Linked DNA regions of Homo sapiens: regions 1, 2, 3, 4 and 5 are each reported to be linked to region 6. Evidence: microRNA targets listed by miRTarBase, many of them from high-throughput screens and not tested one by one. Region 6 holds a microRNA gene; each other region holds the end of a gene's coding sequence.

Region 1 (3,122 bases), not on the chromosome of region 6:
TTGTTTGAGTTGGGGTCTTGTACTCTTTCCCAGGCTGGAGTGCAGTGGCGTAATCACAGCTCACTGCAGCCTCGACCTCAAGCCTTCCTCCCACCTCAGCCTTCCAAGCCGCTGGGACCACAGGCACCCACCACCATGCCTGGCTAATTTTTTTTTTTTTTTGAGATGGAGTCTCGCTGTGTCTCCCAGGCTGGAGTGCAGTGGCAAGATCTCAGCTCACTACAACCTCTGCCTCCCAGGTTCAAGTGATTCTCCTACCTCAGCCTCCTGAGTAGCTGGGATTACACGCGTGCGCCCCTACACCCAGCTAATTTTTCTATTTTTAGTGGAGACGGCGTTTTGTCATGTTGGCCAGGCTGGTCTCGAACTCCTGACCTCAGGTGCTTCGCCTGCCTCGGCCTCCCAAAGTGCTGTGACCGCACCTGGCTGCCTGGCTAATATTTTAAAAATTTTTTGTAGAGACAGGGTTTCACCATGTTGCCCAGGCTGGTCTCAAACTCCTGGGCTCAAGTCATCCACCTTCCTCAGCCTCCCAAAGTGCTGGGGTTACAGACGTGAACCACCGTGCCTGGCAGAGGTCTCTGTTTTGAGAGCTGAGTCTGAGGGCGTTGGGATGGTGTAGGGTTGGGCCACAGAGCTAGCAGACACTCCGGGCTATGGAGGGTCCGCCTGCCCCAGATTCCACTGTGGAGGGCCCTGCCTGTGTCAGACCCTCGGGCCTAGGCGGCCCATCTCTCCCAAGGACGGAGAGTGCCAGGGTGGGCTCCCGTCCTACACAAGGAGTGGCTGACCAGGCCCAGGCACAGCACAGCCACCCTGCTGTACCTCCCAGCTCCCGGCAGTGTCTACACCACAGTGATGGTGCTACAGGGGCCATGTGGTCACAGGACAGGTGGTCAGGAAATGCACACTTGACTGCGGTCGATGGTGCCGGGTCCGGCTGAATGCCCTGGAGGCTCCCAGGCCAGCTGGGGAGTCCCAGTCCCCAGGGTTGGTGTGACCTGGGCAGGCCTGCGGTGTCCATCTGTGAATGACTGAGATGGTGGGACTTCAGCTTCCAAGGCCAGGGGCCAGAGTGGGAGCAGGGGGCACTCCCGCCTTTCCCCTCGGCCTGTCTAGACCTCTCTGGCTCCCAGTTTCTGCTTTGAGTGGCTGGGGGCTGTCTCCTGCCTGTGCTGTCTGCCCGTCGCTCTGCAGGGCTGCTGGGCGGGCACCTCCTTCCCCTCCCCTACCTCAGCTCCCTCCTTTGGGGTCTGAGGGCTGTGCCCCAGCTTGCCTCCCTGTGGCCTCCCCCTAGAACCCCTGGGTCTGTCGGGACATGCCCCACCTGGCACACACACCCTGTGTAGCTCCCACTGCCTGTGGGAGGACGCTGGGCCCCTGAGCCGGCCTCTGTCTACCCCTCCTGCCTTTGGGGTCCCCTTTACCCCACTGTTCCCCCAAACTGCCTTCCACCTTCTCCGCCTTTGCACAGGCTGTTCTCCTGCCTCCAGTGAACTCTGACTTCTCCACAGCCTCCCAAAGGGCCCCTTGCTCACACTGGCCCAGCCCTGCAGCATGGCCATGTTGGTCTCTGAGCCTTAAGCCTTTGGATGTGGACACATTTGTCCTCTTCCTGAAAAATGTGAGGGTCTGAGAGGCCACGTTCCTGTTCCTGAGTCATACGACAGAGTCCCAGTGACTTGGGTCTGATGTCTGTCCCACAGTGGGACATCCCTGCTGCATCCCAATGCCACCCCGTGTCCTGGGGACACCCAAATGTGCCATTCTCTCAGTATCACAAGTCGGGGACTGCAGGAGGCTCAGGTGCCAGGTGCCTTCTGATGTTCATGCCACAAGCTCTTCCCACTGTCTCTGGCTCCCCAGACGATGTTCCAGGAGGCGGGTGTGCCAGAAGGGGCCACGTCTTGCAAACCACCGCGCTGTCCTCTTTGAGAAGGAGTCTTACTCAGGACTGGGGCCTGTGCACACATTGTCGCCTCTTTTCAGCACTTAGAGATTCCTTCCTTTGTCTAGTGGCTGAAGCCAGGGCTGAAGTTGGCCTCCAAATCTGGGCCGTCTCAGAGGCGGCGCAGCCTGGAGTTTTCCATCTGTGGCCAAGACCCAGTTTTTGGGAGGAGGCCCTCATGGGTCAAGCCAGCCTGTACCAGGATGGGGGGAGGGGGTTCCCAACCTAGGCCCCAGCCACCCAGACTCCCCCACCCCCACTCCCTTTTCCACTGCTCTGACCTCGGGCACTGTTGAAATATAGTTTTTATTGCATTTCTGCCGTTTTACAAAAATATGACAAAATAAATTAAAAACAAATAAATAATCGCCTGTTCTGTGTGTGTGTGTGTGTGTGTGTGTGTGTGTGTTTTCTGTTGGATTTGTGGGTTTCCTTTCGTTTGGAAAGGAAAACGGCAGATGGGGGGCACCGACCAATACTGGGGGCCCTCGGGGGCTGAAGCGCATTTTGCATTTTGGAGACCGGCCGCCCCTGTGAATGACTGATATTGCATATGAGAAGAGAAGGCAGGGCGGGTAGAGCTAATGCCAGCCGCTGGGCCAGCACACGGCCTGGGGGCTGGGGCTGGGGCTAGGGGAGGGCGCTGGGGTCTCGAGGGGATCCGAGGTGGGCGGTAGCGGTGGGGGCGGGAGGCTGTAAAAGCTGGCGTCTCCCGGCAGGGGCTGGGGGGCGGGTGGGGGCCCGGCCATGGCACAGGGTGGGCACTCGGCAGCGGCCAGGGCCTGGCGGGGGGCGGCACCCTCGCCCCCGCAGCCCCAGGGCCCGTCCCACTGCCAGCAGCCTGCGGGCGGTGTCGGGGGCCGGGGCAGCGGCATTGGCGGCGGCGGCGCGGGGCTCCGGCTGCGGCGGGTGCGGAGGGCAGGGGCGCCCACGGGGGCCAGCGCTGTCCCTGCGGAGGCGAGAGGGGCCGTTCCGGGGGGATGCCGCCCCCGCCGGACCCCGCCGGGCTGGCAACCCTGCCCGCGCTCCCTCCCGGGCATCCAGGCACATAAAGGCCTTATTGCTTCTGATCAGAGACTGAGGTGGGGCGGCCCCCTGGGCGGCTTCCGGTGCATACCCTGCCTCTGGGCACGGCCCTGCCGGTCACAGGGGGAGGACAGTTTGAGGAAGTCCC
Region 2 (3,122 bases), not on the chromosome of region 6:
GTTGTTCAAGTTATTCCTGATTATAACTTTCTTTCATCATTTTTCTCAGAGGTTTTTTTTTATTGTTGGGTAGTTGTAGGACTTCACTAATCAAGTTTAATTTATACTGTTTTGATTTCTAGTTAGCTTATAAAATAATTTGTCAGAGGATTAATGTGTGAGACAATATTCAAAAAAGAGTATTTTTATATTTTGGGGACTTTAAAGTATGTCAATGATGAAATGTATTTTAATTCATTTTTCTTTGTTCTCTCAGGTGGATCTCCTTACGTAGCAGCCAAAATAAATGAAGCAAAAGACTTGCTAGAAACAACCACCAAACATTGATGCTTAAGGACCACACTGAAGGAAAAAAAAAGAGGGGACTTCGAAAAAAAAAAAAGCCCTGCAAAATATTCTAAAACATGGTCTTCTTAATTTTCTATATGGATTGACCACAGTCTTATCTTCCACCATTAAGCTGTATAACAATAAAATGTTAATAGTCTTGCTTTTTATTATCTTTTAAAGATCTCCTTAAATTCTATAACTGATCTTTTTTCTTATTTTGTTTGTGACATTCATACATTTTTAAGATTTTTGTTATGTTCTGAATTCCCCCCTACACACACACACACACACACACACACACACACGTGCAAAAAATATGATCAAGAATGCAATTGGGATTTGTGAGCAATGAGTAGACCTCTTATTGTTTATATTTGTACCCTCATTGTCAATTTTTTTTTAGGGAATTTGGGACTCTGCCTATATAAGGTGTTTTAAATGTCTTGAGAACAAGCACTGGCTGATACCTCTTGGAGATATGATCTGAAATGTAATGGAATTTATTAAATGGTGTTTAGTAAAGTAGGGGTTAAGGACTTGTTAAAGAACCCCACTATCTCTGAGACCCTATAGCCAAAGCATGAGGACTTGGAGAGCTACTAAAATGATTCAGGTTTACAAAATGAGCCCTGTGAGGAAAGGTTGAGAGAAGTCTGAGGAGTTTGTATTTAATTATAGTCTTCCAGTACTGTATATTCATTCATTACTCATTCTACAAATATTTATTGACCCCTTTTGATGTGCAAGGCACTATCGTGCGTCCCCTGAGAGTTGCAAGTATGAAGCAGTCATGGATCATGAACCAAAGGAACTTATATGTAGAGGAAGGATAAATCACAAATAGTGAATACTGTTAGATACAGATGATATATTTTAAAAGTTCAAAGGAAGAAAAGAATGTGTTAAACACTGCATGAGAGGAGGAATAAGTGGCATAGAGCTAGGCTTTAGAAAAGAAAAATATTCCGATACCATATGATTGGTGAGGTAAGTGTTATTCTGAGATGAGAATTAGCAGAAATAGATATATCAATCGGAGTGATTAGAGTGCAGGGTTTCTGGAAAGCAAGGTTTGGACAGAGTGGTCATCAAAGGCCAGCCCTGTGACTTACACTGCATTAAATTAATTTCTTAGAACATAGTCCCTGATCATTATCACTTTACTATTCCAAAGGTGAGAGAACAGATTCAGATAGAGTGCCAGCATTGTTTCCCAGTATTCCTTTACAAATCTTGGGTTCATTCCAGGTAAACTGAACTACTGCATTGTTTCTATCTTAAAATACTTTTTAGATATCCTAGATGCATCTTTCAACTTCTAACATTCTGTAGTTTAGGAGTTCTCAACCTTGGCATTATTGACATGTTAGGCCAAATAATTTTTTTTGTGGGAGGTCTCTTGTGCGTTTTAGATGATTAGCAATAATCCCTGACCTGTTATCTACTAAAGACTAGTCGTTTCTCATCAGTTGTGACAACAAAAATGGTTCCAGATATTGCCAAATGCCCTTTAGAGGACAGTAATCGCCCCCAGTTGAGAACCATTTCAGTAAAACTTTAATTACTATTTTTTCTTTTGGTTTATAAAATAATGATCCTGAATTAAATTGATGGAACCTTGAAGTCGATAAAATATATTTCTTGCTTTAAAGTCCCCATACGTGTCCTACTAATTTTCTCATGCTTTAGTGTTTTCACTTTTCTCCTGTTATCCTTGTACCTAAGAATGCCATCCCAATCCCCAGATGTCCACCTGCCCAAAGTCTAGGCATAGCTGAAGGCCAAGCTAAAATGTATCCCTCTTTTTCTGGTACATGCAGCAAAAGTAATATGAATTATCAGCTTTCTGAGAGCAGGCATTGTATCTGTCTTGTTTGGTGTTACATTGGCACCCAATAAATATTTGTTGAGTGAATGAATAAATTCCCATAGCACTTTATTCTTCACATGGTACATAACTATAGGGGCTATAGCTTGGTACCTTGTGAAGCAACTCTTGGTGTAACATACCTTATTTCTCATACTAAAATGCAAGAACCTTTAGAGCAAGGATCTTGCCATTCATCTTTGTAACCTCTTTACTCTGGAGCACTTGCATTTAGCAGGCATCATAAAGTTTTACGTACCAAGAAAATGTTGCTGTTTTCTGAATACTATGCATCAAAAAATGTTACCACTAATTTTTAAAGCTCTGCTAAGGAATATTGGGGCACCCTCAGATGCACCTTTTAATTGATGTCATATTTTCCTAATCCATACTTTATTCATGAGAATTTGAGTCACCCCAGCATTAGCTTGGAATTTCCTTATTTCCCATTTGCTTTGCAGGTGCCTTGGAGTCAGATCTGGTTTTGAATACTATCTTCCTGTTATGTGATCTTGGGCAGTTACTTAATTTTCTAGTCAATAACCCGTATCTATAAAATAGAGAAAATAATCCTACACACCGGGGCCTGTTGTGGGGCGGGGAGAGGGGGGAGGGATCGCATTTGGAGATATACTAATGTAAATGACAAGTTAATTGGTGCAGCACACCAACATGGCTCATGTCTACATATGTAACAAACCTGCACGTTGTGCACATGTGCCCTAGAACTTAAAGTATAATAAAAAGAAATTTTAAAAAATCCTGTCAAATAAGGTTATAGTAGAGAATAAGGATGTGTAAAGCATTTAGTCACGTAAATGCTTAAAAAAATGTAATTTTTACTTCTTTCACTGCCTCATTTAATTAGTTTTATCTTTAATAATACCTTGGATTCAGGGTAAAGTTTCAGTTATGTCCCAGTAAT
Region 3 (3,000 bases), not on the chromosome of region 6:
CCCACTGCCACTGGGCTAGTGTGGGTGTGTCTCTGTGCACGACTGGCTGGATTCAGGGTTTTGCCCCCAAACCCTTGAGTACCTCCTACAATGTCCCTTTAAGCACCTGCGTGATGACTGCCTCCCTCATCATCGCTTTTGATCATCTTTCAAGGATAAGGTCCAGAGCATACTCACTCACTCTCATCCAACAGCAGAGGAAGAAGGATCTGTCCAGACTGCTGGGCTCCTTACATGGGCATTCTTGCCTTTTGTAGTGTAGCCCTGGCTGTTGGGCAGGGCTAACATCTATAAGAAAAACATACCAGGGCAGGCAGCACTGTACTTTTCCACCTGAAAGATGAGCTAGTGCCCATGGCTGGGTCACTGTAGGTCCTGCATGAACTTGTCCACCAACTGTGTTTTGCTGTTTGGGTTGTAAATTAACCGTGAATACAAGTAACCAAGAAAATCCTCTCCACAGACCAACTCTTCAGCCAGTGCATGCAGGGCTCTGGAGGTGATGCCAGCAGGATCTGGAGGTGAGGCACTGGGTGGTTTCTCAGACACCCGGAGATGGCTTCAGCCTGGGCCGCCCCAGCTGCCTAGTGCACTGGTGTCCCTCCAACACAGGCTACTCCCCCAACACCCATGTGCCACCAAGTTTCTCAACTGCACACGCCAGATGCGCGTTTTACGAGAATCAAATGAGTATTTATACTGTATATGTGTGTGTGTATATATATATATATAAATTAATCTGCACGTATATAAACACTAAAAGGAGAAATTCCAAGTGTCTGTTCTCTGAAGGAAAGCAATCACTCGCCATTCTTGGCAATTCCTCAAAGGTTTTTGAGACCAAACATCTTTACTCCCCAAATTAAGAATACAAAAATAGGCTGCAAAACTTGCCAAGTACTCACAAGTCCCTGTTTGAGACAAATAAGATGTGGTCCCTATTGGGACAGGGAGGGCAGAAGATGACACTTTAGAAGAACATGATTTTGGTTTCAAAAGCAAGACCTCTCCTGGAAGGCAGAAGGGGCCACCGCCATGCTTGTCCTTGGAGCCACATGAGCACGGTGCCCTGCCAGGTCCAGTTCCCTGGGTAGGGGAGAAGGACGGTCCCTAAAACACCACCAGTGCTTCTTGCCCAAAGCCCTTGCCCTCTCTCTGGGGTCTTCTAGCACTGTCACTCTGCCCAGCCCAGGAGGTGTCTGTGCCCACGAAGCCTGGTACTTGTGGCTTGGCACTCTGGGAAGCAGGTGGTTTCTAAGAAATGAGCGGAGCTACAGGTGGACAGGTCTTTAGTTCGCCCCTCTTTACCAGCTACTCTCAGAGCAACCGGTCTTGGGGAAATTGAGGATTTACCATTTAGAACAGCTCTGTAAGCAAGTTTTCTAATTTTCAAAGGCACCATTTCCTGTAATTTTCTCAATTCAAAAAAGGACATGAGGGTTAGGCTAAAGTAGAGTTCTTGTTTCCAAGTTTGGGGACATAAATATAAAACTTTAAAAGCATCCTCACAAGGACCAGTGATGCCCAGCACCCTTGGGCATGCATCCAGCACACCGGCCAGACCCTGGGGTGGGAGCCACGGGCACTCTGGGTGTTCTGCCAGGGATCTCTGCATGCAAGTCTTTGTGCTAAAGACCACCCTACCTCTGATAATTCCAAGAAGTCAACAAATCCCTCCAGCCTTCACCCTTACTAATGGGCCAGTGTGTTATTCCTTCCCAAACCATAGGAGGCTCTGAAATGAGTGTGGAGAAAGGGCTCTGAAAACCGCAGTGGTCAAAGCTTCAGGCTGTGGCTATAGATTTCCACTTACGTCCCTACCCCATGTCTTTTTTCCATCTTTCTCTCACTCCAAACATGTCTAGATTAAAAAAAAAATGCAGGCACATAGGTCAGCACATTAGGCTTAACAACAAATGTTTCTTTAGTTGATCTGATAACTGAAAAGTTATGGTCCATGATTCAAACTCCCATGAAAAAGCAGAATTACGGTAACAACTAAAGAGAATGGTAAAGCATCCAACGCTAATCACATTGCCAGTCCATTTTTTGAACTGAGGGTTACAGCAGGTTCTGCACTGAGTAGCCCACAAGGCAAAGCAAGCCTGACATGAAACGTAGCCGGTCATCACTTAATGCAGCAGAGATCTCTTCAAAGGTACTGCTTCCTTGAGGAACACAAAGGGGGCACAAAGGGGTTCCAGACGTAGCTTTGTGCCTATAACTTCCCTGCCTGACTGTGGAAGGTGAGGGGCACCTGTGACCCAGCAATCCCCAGAGAACAGACACAGGTCATTTTTAGAGATGACGTAACTGACAATGCACTGCTTGGCTAACCAAAGTTTCTACGTAATGACAGTGTTGATAATCTGATGTTTTATTTAACATATAGAGGTGGATGTATATGTTAAAAGCTTGATTCTGTGTCTATGAATATGACTATGAACTCTGAACTATTTTATCCATTGGAAGGTAAAGGAAAGGTCCTACATTGTGGGAGGAAGAACTGATGAGAACCCCATCTTGCTTGCTGCTTGCTTGGTGGTGGGCAGGCCGAGGGTAGCGGCAGGCTCTGGGCTGTCTGCGAGGATTCTGGAAGCTCTCCCAGGTGCCCAGCAGCCGGGCATGGGAACGGCATGTGGCAGCAGAGAGTCGGGTTTGGCTCTTCCACGTGGCAGGCGGTTTCCCAGACTGGCCAGTCCTTCACATTAATCAGATCAAATTCAGTCTGTTTCTGAGAAGAAAACACATGCCTGTCACTCTACGGCAGCTGCCACCACCTGCCCCCCAGGCAGCCTGGTCCTTGCTATACCAGGGTGGCATCACTGGCTTTGAGGACCTCTTAATTCCATGAGCAATGAATGGCCTTCTGCCACCCACTCCCCCACCCTCCAGCCTGAGGGAATGTGGGTTAAGGACAGGATGCTGGCTCAACCTTGTAAGGCCATCAGACTCTCTGAGAGACCCTGCTAAACCCTAGGCCTAGCAGCAGGAGCAGTG
Region 4 (3,122 bases), not on the chromosome of region 6:
AGCCTCATTGCCACTGGCTTAGTTCAGACTTAGCATCTCCTCTCTGAGCTCCCTGGCTCAGCCATTCCTCTTGCAGTGCCTCATCTTCCCAAAATGCAAACGGGATCACATTCAATCTGCTAAAAAATCTGCAGTCTAGCCGGGGATGGTGGCTCATGCCTACAATCCCAGCACTTTGGGAGGCTGAGGCAAAAGGATTACTTGAGGCCATGAGTTTCGAGATCAGGCTGGGCAACAGAGTGAGACCCTGCTTCTAAAAAAAACAAAACTGCAATTTGATCTCTCAGCATGATTCCACGTTTAAGCTTCTGAGCACAGCACAGTAGGATCTGGTCCATGCCTGCTGGTTCAACCTCATCTTCCACCACTCCACACTTCACACTCTATACACCATGGAATGCGAAACTACTCGTAGTTCTCAAGCTTGCATGCCTTCAGACCTTGCTGTTCCTTTTCGTGTCTGCCTGGCAAGCCCCTCCTCACCCTGAAGTCTCAGAGCACATAGTTGCTGTAAGTTTTCCTGCAATCGTTTGGCCAGTCTGAGGGGCTCGCATGCTCCAGCCACACTGTGTTTGGACCTACATAGAAGCCACTGCTTACAGTTTTTTTGTTTTTGTTTTTGTTTTTTTGAGACAGGATCTCACCCTGTCTTCCAGGCTGGAATGCAGTGGTGTGATCATAGCTCACTATAACCTCAAACCCCTGGGCTCAAGAGAACCTCTCGCCTCAGTCTCGGGAGTAGCAGGGACTACAGGCACGAGGCACCATGCCCGGCTAATTGTTTTTCTTTTGTAGAGATGGAGTCTCACTGTGTTGCCCAGGCTGATCTTGAATTCCTGGGCTCAAGTGATCCTCCCACCTCAGACTCCCAAAGTATTGGGATTACAGGCGTTAGCCACCACACCTAGCCTCTATGTCTTTTCATATTTACCCCAGAGAATCCATGCTAAGAAGATGGCTTTCAGTACAACCAGTCAATAAATAAATATTCCTGTCTATGCATAGCCAACCACAGGTGGGCACATAGGCTATGCTCAGCACGTGCTTATAGGTTTGAGGGCCTAGGTGGAGGAGGTTGCGGAGGGTATGGGTCTGGGGCCTGTCTGGCTCCAACCTCACAGCTTTGGCTCAGGACTGGTGAAGTACCCATAGTGGGTACTTGGCTCATCTGCTGAAGCTTGCAGGCCCTCTGGCTTCTCATTTGGCATACAGGATCAACAGCTGGTAACCTGAAAGCTACATTTGGACTGCATGTTTTGTTGGATCAGTAGTTATTTAATTAAAGATAGTTACTGACATTCAAAAGTTGGGTTTCACATACAAATTAGGATTCCTGACTTCTTTAAAAATGGGAGGATATGGCAGGGCCACTTGGCAGCAACCCAGTGACATGGGGGCGGGGGTGCAGTGTTTCATCTGTACTTGAGAGCACCAGAGCCCCCACAAGGCCTGGCCACATCAACATGAGTTTGGCAATCTGCTGTACAAGTGAAAGATGTGGGCTGGGGAGTCGGATGGCCTGTGTGGAGTCCTGGCTCTGGCACTGACTAGCGGCAACACCTTGAGCCAATCACTTATCCATGCCAAAGTTGCTTTGTCTGTAAAATCAGAACCCTTCAGAGGATTCTTGGAAGGGCTGAATGAGGTCTCATGATGTGTTTAGCAGGGCATGTGTTCAGCACCTGGTAGCTGTGAACTGATGGAGCCTGGAAGGGAGAGAGCAGGTGCAGGGCAGACCACGCAGGAGGCTTCTCGTCACCAATGAACATTTATTGAGTGTCCACATGTGCACAGCTTTGAACTTGGCGATCACAGAACGCACTGGGGGAGGGAAGCAAGGGATCAAGAGTGTGTGTGTGTGTGTGTGTGTGTGTGTGTGTGTGTGTGTGTGTGTGTGTGGTCCCCCTGGGTTTATAAGAAAGGTAGTCCCTGCTGGAGCCGCCAGTCGCGTCTCTGCAGAGAGGAGTCATAGCAGGGGTGGGAGTTAAAGCCAGGCACCACGGTGGCAGTGGAGTGTAATCACTGGGGAAACATGCGGATTCTGGGGAAGTGTCCCTCCTGTTCCTGGCTCCAGCCAGGCCAGATGGCACCAGGGGGACAGGAATCAGATGCTCAGGTGTCCAAGCAGGGATAAGGACAGGCAAAATAAATAACCCCCCAACCCCCATCGTCACTCTGCTGCAACACGACACAAAGGTTTAAAGATCTGGGCCCAAAGACTCTGGGTCCCTTCAAGCAAGCTCAGGTGGAAGGAGGTTTCCCCACCCCCCACCAGGCCTGTCTGCCCCAGGTTGCCCTAGGATGGAGGCAGTTCAGACCCTGGGTCACTGAAGCTGATAGGAAGAACTGCGATATCAATGGCCTAAGCCTGCTGTCTGCCCAAGGGAGCCAAGGGCAAGAGCCAAAGGGCCAATTTAAAGGACGTGGACCTGGGGGGCCAGAGGAGGCACCACAGCCGAGGGGAGCCCACGCCCTGGCCGGCAGGGCACATGGGCTGAGGCAGTCTGCTCCTGCCAGCCCTGTCTTACCCTGGAGCCTCCCTCCTGCAGGGGAGCCAGACATCGGGCACAATGACACCTAGTGCCCCCCTCCCTGGGGGCTGCTCCAACCTTCCCCGGCCTGGCGGGGACAACCACGTTGATTTCCAAGCCGATCCCTGCCCCCATGGGGGCCTGAGGGGCGGAACGCAGTTCCTTACACTTGAGGGGTGGGCACCATGCCCTTGCCCTCAGAAAAGCCAGAAAGCTGGGGTGTTTTGGGGAGGAAGTCTGGGGAGGGGGGGGCCAGATTGGGGGCTTCAGGGAAGATGCCTCCTCCCTCCTTCCCTCTCTGCCCGCCCCTGGGTCTGTCCCCGGTGGACACCCCTCAGGGCTCTGACAGGCACTGCTCCAAGGCAGCCATGCGGTAGTGGCTGGCCGTCTCCTCGCCCGCCTGCAGCCTCATGGCCTCCCGGCACAGCCGGTTGGCCCGCGCCAGCTCCACCAGGACACCCTGATAGGCGGCCACCATCTCGGGCTTGACAGAGTTGGGGCTGACACTGCCTAGCAGCTGGAGCAGCTCCTGCGGCCAGCGGGAGCGCAGGGCAGCGGGGGCCAGCCAGGGCAGCAGAGGCACACAGCCGG
Region 5 (3,122 bases), not on the chromosome of region 6:
ATGATTTCCTTTCACCAATCTCATTAATTCATTATTTTCTACATCTAAATTTAAAAACTGTGTCACACTTTCCTTTCTAGTTGTTTCTATCCTACTAGTATTCTATTACCTGTCACAAATTATTTCTTCTCTTATTTTGCAGAATTCTTTTTAGGGTCCTTTTTATATTTCTTTTTCACCAGTTTTTCCCCCCAATCATTCCCTTTAAAATAATGGATGTGAGATTTTATTCTAAATGAGCTGTATCTTGCCATATTTAAGATCACTCTAGGATCCCCAAATTTATAGTAACTTAATAACTTAAAGTTCTTTTGTAAACTCCTATAGCTGCTCTTGTATAAATAAGTCAGAAGTTAATACACAAGATAGATACATATACTTCCATTCCCACTAAGCAATGGGTCCACAGTAAAGGAGTGACTCCTGAAGAAGTCTCATTTTACTAAAACCAATTGCTTTGGCTACAAAACTAGAAATATTTTCAAAAATGATGCCATGGGCTTCATGGACCCCTGATACTAAGTTTGTTTTCCACCTCTTACCCATCTAAGGAAACAGTCTCAAATACAGATGCTAGTGGTGGTATAGCCCTAGGCACAGCCTCTGCCCTTAGCTGCAGAAAGAAAGGCTCCTTAACCCTAAGAGAATGAAGGTAGGGAACGCCAAACAAGTACTCTACAATTTTTGAAGTCCTGGCTTAAAATTTTAAAAGATAGTTTATAAACCTGGAGTATCAAAAAGAAAAAGCAGCATAAAAGCAAAATACTGATGAAGAAATAGCTTTTATACCTCATGAGCATATTTAGAACTAAAGCTGATAAATTTCTCCCTAGTGTAATGACTGATTACATAAAAACATAAGGTTTTTTTTTGTAAACTTTAAAGAATGATACAAATATAAGGTATGCCATGTAAGCTCGTGTCTAAATATACATTTTGTTGTATTTTCTTTTTAATACATTAATATTTAGAATAGTCATTCTACATAGCAAGGACTGACAAGAATAATCTTTAATTGTGGTGAATTTATACATACAAAATATGCCTTCCATGATATGCATTACCAACTTGTTTTAAAAAGCAAGACTTTTTACAATTAGTAATTTATAGAAAAACATTCTTAGAAATCATACTTGCTATAATTTATTTTTTCTAAATACCGGCATAAAGTGAATAAGAATGCTATTTGGCAAAAGTATTTCTAGCCCTATCTCCATTGAAAGTTTTAAATTAAGGTCAAGATTATTGACCCATTACTTCTCTGTTCTAGTTGCTTGCAGAAAGCCACTAAATATAGCTAAAATATTCAAAATATTATATGTTAAAGCTGACATAATATTACACAAAGCTCAATTACATCTAATTTTTGAGGACTGCATGAAACAACTTGGCACAATTATGACTCATAGCGTGTATTTTTATTAAGTAAATCCTGCAAGTTTCAAGGGGCTTTTTTCTAAGTAAGATTTTCTTACTTTTCTATACATCTAAATCCTACTTCCCACCTATAGCCATTTAACTGCTAAATGTGGTAATAGGTTTTGTGTCAAAAAGCTCCAGAATTCCTTCATTCCCACACTCCTACATGTAAAACTTTTAAAATCAATAAATAAGACTTCCTAAAACTGTCTTTTGATTGTAGGAGTTCTATTTCACAGCAACTGGAACATTAAAACCAAGAACATTGTTTTGTTGTTGTTGTTGTTGGATTTTGTAACTTTTATTTTCAAGAAGTCCAATAAATGATATCTTGCCTTTGATAGGTTAGATATAACTAGGTACTGGGATTTAAAATCAAAGGTGAGAATTTTTATAAAGTAGTATGTACAATCCTGCAATGATAAAAGACTTCCTAATTTAATTCTAAGTAGTGCTAATCTTCACTATGACTGCTATTAGTGGTTCAGCTGAAGACTTACAAAATCGATAGAAGCTAAAATTCTCTTTGCCACCAAAGTTACAAATGTTAAAAAGTTCAAATATGCACATCAAAGCTGCAGTAAAATTCTAAATTTCTATTTCTACATGCCATGATCCAGACTGTACCTAACAAAAACACGGTACATTTGTATTGGAAAACAGGGTCCCATTTATTTGTAAGAAAAAGCTGGATCTCAGCATTCACCAGAGCAAAATTCAATGGCAACCTGCACATAAGTCTCAATTTCACTTCTTGCCAAAAACAAAATAGAGTTTACATAAAAATAGATATAACCCAGATAACCATATACATCAGTATATGACCAGTGCTATTTACATGTAAAATGTTGCATTGCATAATTCAAGGAATAAAATACCATCATGCATTTCATTTAACTTTTAAGGTGAAAAATGCAGTTACAGAACTAAGTTTGCTTACCATGATTGTCCCAATATTTACTTAAGAAACAATACCCAAAGGTTTCTTGTTTACATATCTCTTTCCACATCTAGCTATTCATCTGTGTAACAGATTACACCACTTTAGCAACAAGAAACTTTTGAACAATATCTATTATACTGACATATTAAACTGAAGATATGAATACATAATCACACTGAAAGTTTTGATGAAAATGTATGAAAGAATCCCAAGAATTAGTTTTTCCAATGTAAAAAACTATTTGGAATATCGTAAAGGAGCAGTGAAGTCCTTTCAAAGTTTAATGTCACTCTTCAGACAGGTACAGACATAACACACTTCTAAAAGGAACATTCTTTATCATTCTGCACAAATTAAAATACAATGCAATAATCAAAAAGGGAAACATTATATAATTGTTACATTAGATGAAGTTTTTGCCATTTCTTCAGGAGAATGGCTCTTTACGACTTCTTTGATGAACTGTTCAAGTGCAGTGAAATAGCCTTGGCACTGCCATGTGTCATTGTGAGTCCCATCTGGAAAAATGGCTAATCTCTTAGTCCGAGATGGGGAGAGTTCATAAAGTTGTTTCATCATTACTGGTGGAATTAATTGATCTGAGAGTCCAGAGATGAAAAGTGAAGGCATTCTACACTGAGAGATTTTTCTGTAGGACAAAAATTTATTTTTGTAGCACCATAAAGGAAGGTAACGCATCGGAAAGAATGAAAATAAAGTGCTGGCCATATGTGGTATGCTTAAAAATGTGTTCTCCACC
Region 6 (3,122 bases):
CCAGCCCCCTACAAGCCATGCAGGCCCTTTTGCCCTCCAACAGGGAGAATTAATCCGAGGCTCCCATGTAACCCAAGGAGCTCCACTCTGATATCCCTTCTCCTTCCTTCAAACTCTGCAGAAGCTGCCAGGGAAATTCAAGAACTTGTTTCGCAAATTTGAGAACCTGACGGTGAGTGGGTTTGGCTCTTTCTTCTGCTCTTGGACTGAGAGCCCAGAAACCCTCTGTTCCCATAAACCCCCTTCCTCAAGCTTTCCTTTCAAGGTGTTTAGTGTATGGGACCCCCCACCCTCCTTACCATGCTGGAGGGTGAGGTTGGAAGGATTGCGCCCCTGTTTTTCTTGAAGGAAAGGGGGAGTAGTCAGGTCCCTCCCCACCACACCATTAGAAAGCCCCCAGCACCCCTATCTGATCAGGAATGTATACAAGGCAGGGGGTGAGGGAGGAAGCTGAGGACATCTTTGGGATGCATTGGCCAGTCTGTCCCTTGATCTCTCTCCTGTGGAATACTAGGACCCCTGCAGGAACCACAAAAGCTACCGAGAAGTGATCTCCAAAATGAAGCCCCCTGTGATTCCCTTCGTGCCTCTGATCCTCAAAGGTGAGAGAGTTACTCCCAAGCTGTGCCGCTTCCACCCATGCTTCCCTTCTCCTATGCCCTGCTTCTGACTTCCAGCTCCCTCTCGACTCAGCCCTGAGTACCCACCTGGAGAGGAGCCCCCCACCACAGACGGAGTGGGTTCTGGGGAAGAGCGGGGTCCTCGGGTGCAGTGGCCCCTTTCGAACTCCTCTCTTATCCTTTCCTCACATTGGATTCTCTCCACATCCCCTAGACCTGACTTTCCTGCACGAAGGGAGTAAGACCCTTGTAGATGGTTTGGTGAACATCGAGAAGCTGGTGAGTGAGTGGCACTGCAAACCCCTAGTCCCACAAGTGGGGGGCTTGCATCCTCTCCCTCTCTCATCACCTCCCAAAAATAGCAGCCTTCCTCCAAGTGCCCAGCTTGCCTAACAGACTCTTGACTGTCTCCCTGGTGGCATCACTGTGGCAACCCACCCACAGGTGGCAGAGCTGACAGGCAGCTTGGGGGCAACTTCACCTCCCCCTCACATGGCACTCTGTTACACCCACTCCTTTGGTCCTTCAGAGACCCTCCAGAATTGGAGACTGGAGGGAGTAAAGCAGAGTGGGAGAATGGCGGAGGGGGAGCATAAGAGGGGGAGCCTCTTTCTGTGCCCCTTTCAAGGCTCATTCCTTGTCATCTCCCAGCATTCAGTGGCCGAAAAAGTGAGGACAATCCGCAAATACCGGAGCCGGCCCCTTTGTGAGTACCCAGGGTACTGAGAGCAGTACAGATAGAGCTTTGACTGAACGGGAGGGTTCAGGGGAGAACTCCCTGTCCAGATGTGTATTTCCATACACTTGCTGGTTCCCCATTCTCTCCTTGCCTCTGCAGAGGCCTTCCTGCCCAACATCTGTCTCAGTCCACAGCCTGATCTTCTGCCCGGTGTGTGTGTAGAGGAAGAAGGGAAGCTGGGAACCTGACTGCCTCTCCCTCTTTACCCACTAGGCCTGGACATGGAGGCATCCCCCAATCACCTGCAGACCAAGGCCTATGTGCGCCAGTTTCAGGTCATCGACAACCAGAACCTCCTCTTCGAGCTCTCCTACAAGCTGGAGGCAAACAGTCAGTGAGAGTGGAGGCTCCAGTCAGACCCGCCAGATCCTTGGGCACCTGGCACTCAAGCACTTTGCACGATGTCTCAACCAACATCTGACATCTTTCCCGTGGAGCAACTTCCTGCTCCACGGGAAAGAGGTCGATGGATTTACCCCTGGACCCATAAGTCTGTTCATCCTGCTGAAGTCCCCTCCCCATTGCTCCTTCAAGCCAAAACTACACTTTGCTGGTTCCTGTCCCCTCTGAGAAAGGGGATAGAAAGCTCCTTCCTCTATGTCCTCCCATCGAGATCTGTTCTGGGGATGGAGCTTCCAACTTCCTCTTGCAGCAGGAAAGAATGCTGCTCACCCTTCTGTCTTGCAGAGTGGGATTGTGGGAGGGATTGGCAGCCTTCTTCTCCACCACCTGTCCAGCTTCTTCCTGGTCAGGGCTGGGACCCCCAGGAATATTATGTTGCCGTGTGTGTGTGTGTGTGTGTGTGTGTGTGTGTGTGTGTGTGTGTGTGTGTGTGTGTGTCTTCTTTTAGGGAGCAGGAGTGCATCTGGTAATTGAGGGTGGATGTTGTGTGTGCTGGGGAGGGGTCCTTCTGTTTGGTGCTACCCTTGTCTACTCTGCCCCTGGATGGTGCGGGGTGCTTTCTCCACCCCCACACTCCCTGCTCAGCTCCTCGTGCTGCCCTGCATGCCCAGGCTTGTGAGCCAAGCTGCTTTTTGGGGCAGGGAGTAGCAGCAGGTGGGAGGGGTTACCCATCAGCCCTTGCAAGTCCCCCACTCAGGCCTCTGGAAGGTCCAGGGATGGGCTCTGATGAGAGGGTAAAAGATGCTCAGGGAAACACAGGCCTCAGCTGCCTAGAGGACCCTCCCCCTGCCTTGCAGTGGGCTCGGGTAGAGCAGTATCAGGAGCTAGGGTTGTCTGCTGCCCACACTCCTGCTTTTTGGGATATCTAACTGCTAAGGAGGGAGTTGACATCCCCCTTCTGGCTCATGTGTCTGACACCAACAACATGGTCTCTGTCCCTCTCTCTTTGACTCTCCCTTTGTCCTCCCCATAGAGCTGGGGTGGGGTGGATCCCTATACCTGGGGCAGGCAGCCCCAAAGTGGGGGAGGGGGATGGCAGAGACTGTAAAGGCGCCACTGGACTCTGGCAAGGCCTTTATTACCTTTACTCCCCTCCCTCTCCCATCACCAGCCTCAAGGCCTGAGGGGTGCAGGGGCTCCTGGCAGCTACTGGGTGAGGTTTCCTGGCACAGACTCACCCTTCTTTCTGGCACCACCTCTTTCCCTTTTGAAGAGACAGCAACAGCCGTAGCAAAAGCAGCTGCTGCTCCTGCTATGAGGGTGTATATATTTTTTACCCAAAGCTCTGGAATTGTACATTTATTTTTTAAAACTCAAAGAGGGAAAGAGCCTTGTATCATATGTGAACATTGTATCATAGG

What was found. Region 6 holds the annotated microRNA hsa-miR-6867-5p (UGUGUGUGUAGAGGAAGAAGGGA, at 1,511-1,533, shown strand). A microRNA usually pairs through its seed, bases 2 to 8, with sites in the 3' UTR of a target mRNA and lowers its output. Matches are read on the target gene's strand: a 7mer-m8 pairs with bases 2 to 8, a 7mer-A1 pairs with bases 2 to 7 and ends in A, and an 8mer does both.
Region 1: miRTarBase lists ANO8 as a target of hsa-miR-6867-5p. Seed matches in the 3' UTR shown: 7mer-A1 at 2,351-2,357, 8mer at 2,349-2,356, 8mer at 2,347-2,354, 8mer at 2,345-2,352, 8mer at 2,343-2,350, 8mer at 2,341-2,348 and 8 more.
Region 2: miRTarBase lists DNAJC15 as a target of hsa-miR-6867-5p. Seed matches in the 3' UTR shown: 7mer-A1 at 604-610, 8mer at 605-612, 8mer at 607-614, 8mer at 609-616, 8mer at 611-618, 8mer at 613-620 and 8 more.
Region 3: miRTarBase lists ZHX3 as a target of hsa-miR-6867-5p. Seed matches in the 3' UTR shown: 7mer-A1 at 711-717, 8mer at 709-716 and 8mer at 707-714.
Region 4: miRTarBase lists NCDN as a target of hsa-miR-6867-5p. Seed matches in the 3' UTR shown: 8mer at 1,892-1,899, 8mer at 1,890-1,897, 8mer at 1,888-1,895, 8mer at 1,886-1,893, 8mer at 1,884-1,891, 8mer at 1,882-1,889 and 17 more.
Region 5: miRTarBase lists ABHD13 as a target of hsa-miR-6867-5p. The part of its 3' UTR that is shown has no 7-base or 8-base seed match.

What each region holds. Positions count from the first base shown.
Region 1 is chr19:17,320,988-17,324,109 of GRCh38, forward strand. It overlaps ANO8 (anoctamin 8), which reads right to left. Exons shown (of 18, transcript NM_020959.3): 18 at 2,236-2,897. The coding sequence ends at 2,530. DDA1 (DET1 and DDB1 associated 1) reads left to right here. Exons shown (of 5, transcript NM_024050.6): 5 at 1-2,311. Among named protein-coding and RNA genes, the nearest start is that of ANO8, 12 kb to the right of the region's middle. RefSeq lists enhancers at 369-985, 2,527-2,576.
Region 2 is chr13:43,106,922-43,110,043 of GRCh38, forward strand. DNAJC15 (DnaJ heat shock protein family (Hsp40) member C15) reads left to right here. Exons shown (of 6, transcript NM_013238.3): 6 at 257-3,122. The coding sequence ends at 327. Among named protein-coding and RNA genes, the nearest start is that of LINC00400, 4.7 kb to the right of the region's middle.
Region 3 is chr20:41,182,468-41,185,467 of GRCh38, forward strand. It overlaps ZHX3 (zinc fingers and homeoboxes 3), which reads right to left. Exons shown (of 4, transcript NM_001384317.1): 4 at 1-2,734. The coding sequence ends at 2,724. Among named protein-coding and RNA genes, the nearest start is that of MIR6871, 15 kb to the left of the region's middle.
Region 4 is chr1:35,565,407-35,568,528 of GRCh38, reverse strand. NCDN (neurochondrin) reads right to left here. Exons shown (of 7, transcript NM_014284.3): 7 at 1,750-3,122. The coding sequence ends at 2,866. Among named protein-coding and RNA genes, the nearest start is that of TFAP2E, 6.3 kb to the left of the region's middle.
Region 5 is chr13:108,229,860-108,232,981 of GRCh38, reverse strand. ABHD13 (abhydrolase domain containing 13) reads right to left here. Exons shown (of 2, transcript NM_032859.3): 2 at 1-3,122. The coding sequence ends at 2,750. Among named protein-coding and RNA genes, the nearest start is that of ABHD13, 13 kb to the right of the region's middle.
Region 6 is chr17:40,192,092-40,195,213 of GRCh38, forward strand. MIR6867 (microRNA 6867) reads left to right here and starts at 1,506; the gene lies at 1,506-1,572. RAPGEFL1 (Rap guanine nucleotide exchange factor like 1) reads left to right here. Exons shown (of 15, transcript NM_016339.6): 11 at 122-172; 12 at 515-602; 13 at 835-899; 14 at 1,272-1,326; 15 at 1,573-3,122. The coding sequence ends at 1,697. RefSeq lists enhancers at 2,352-2,852, 2,477-2,526.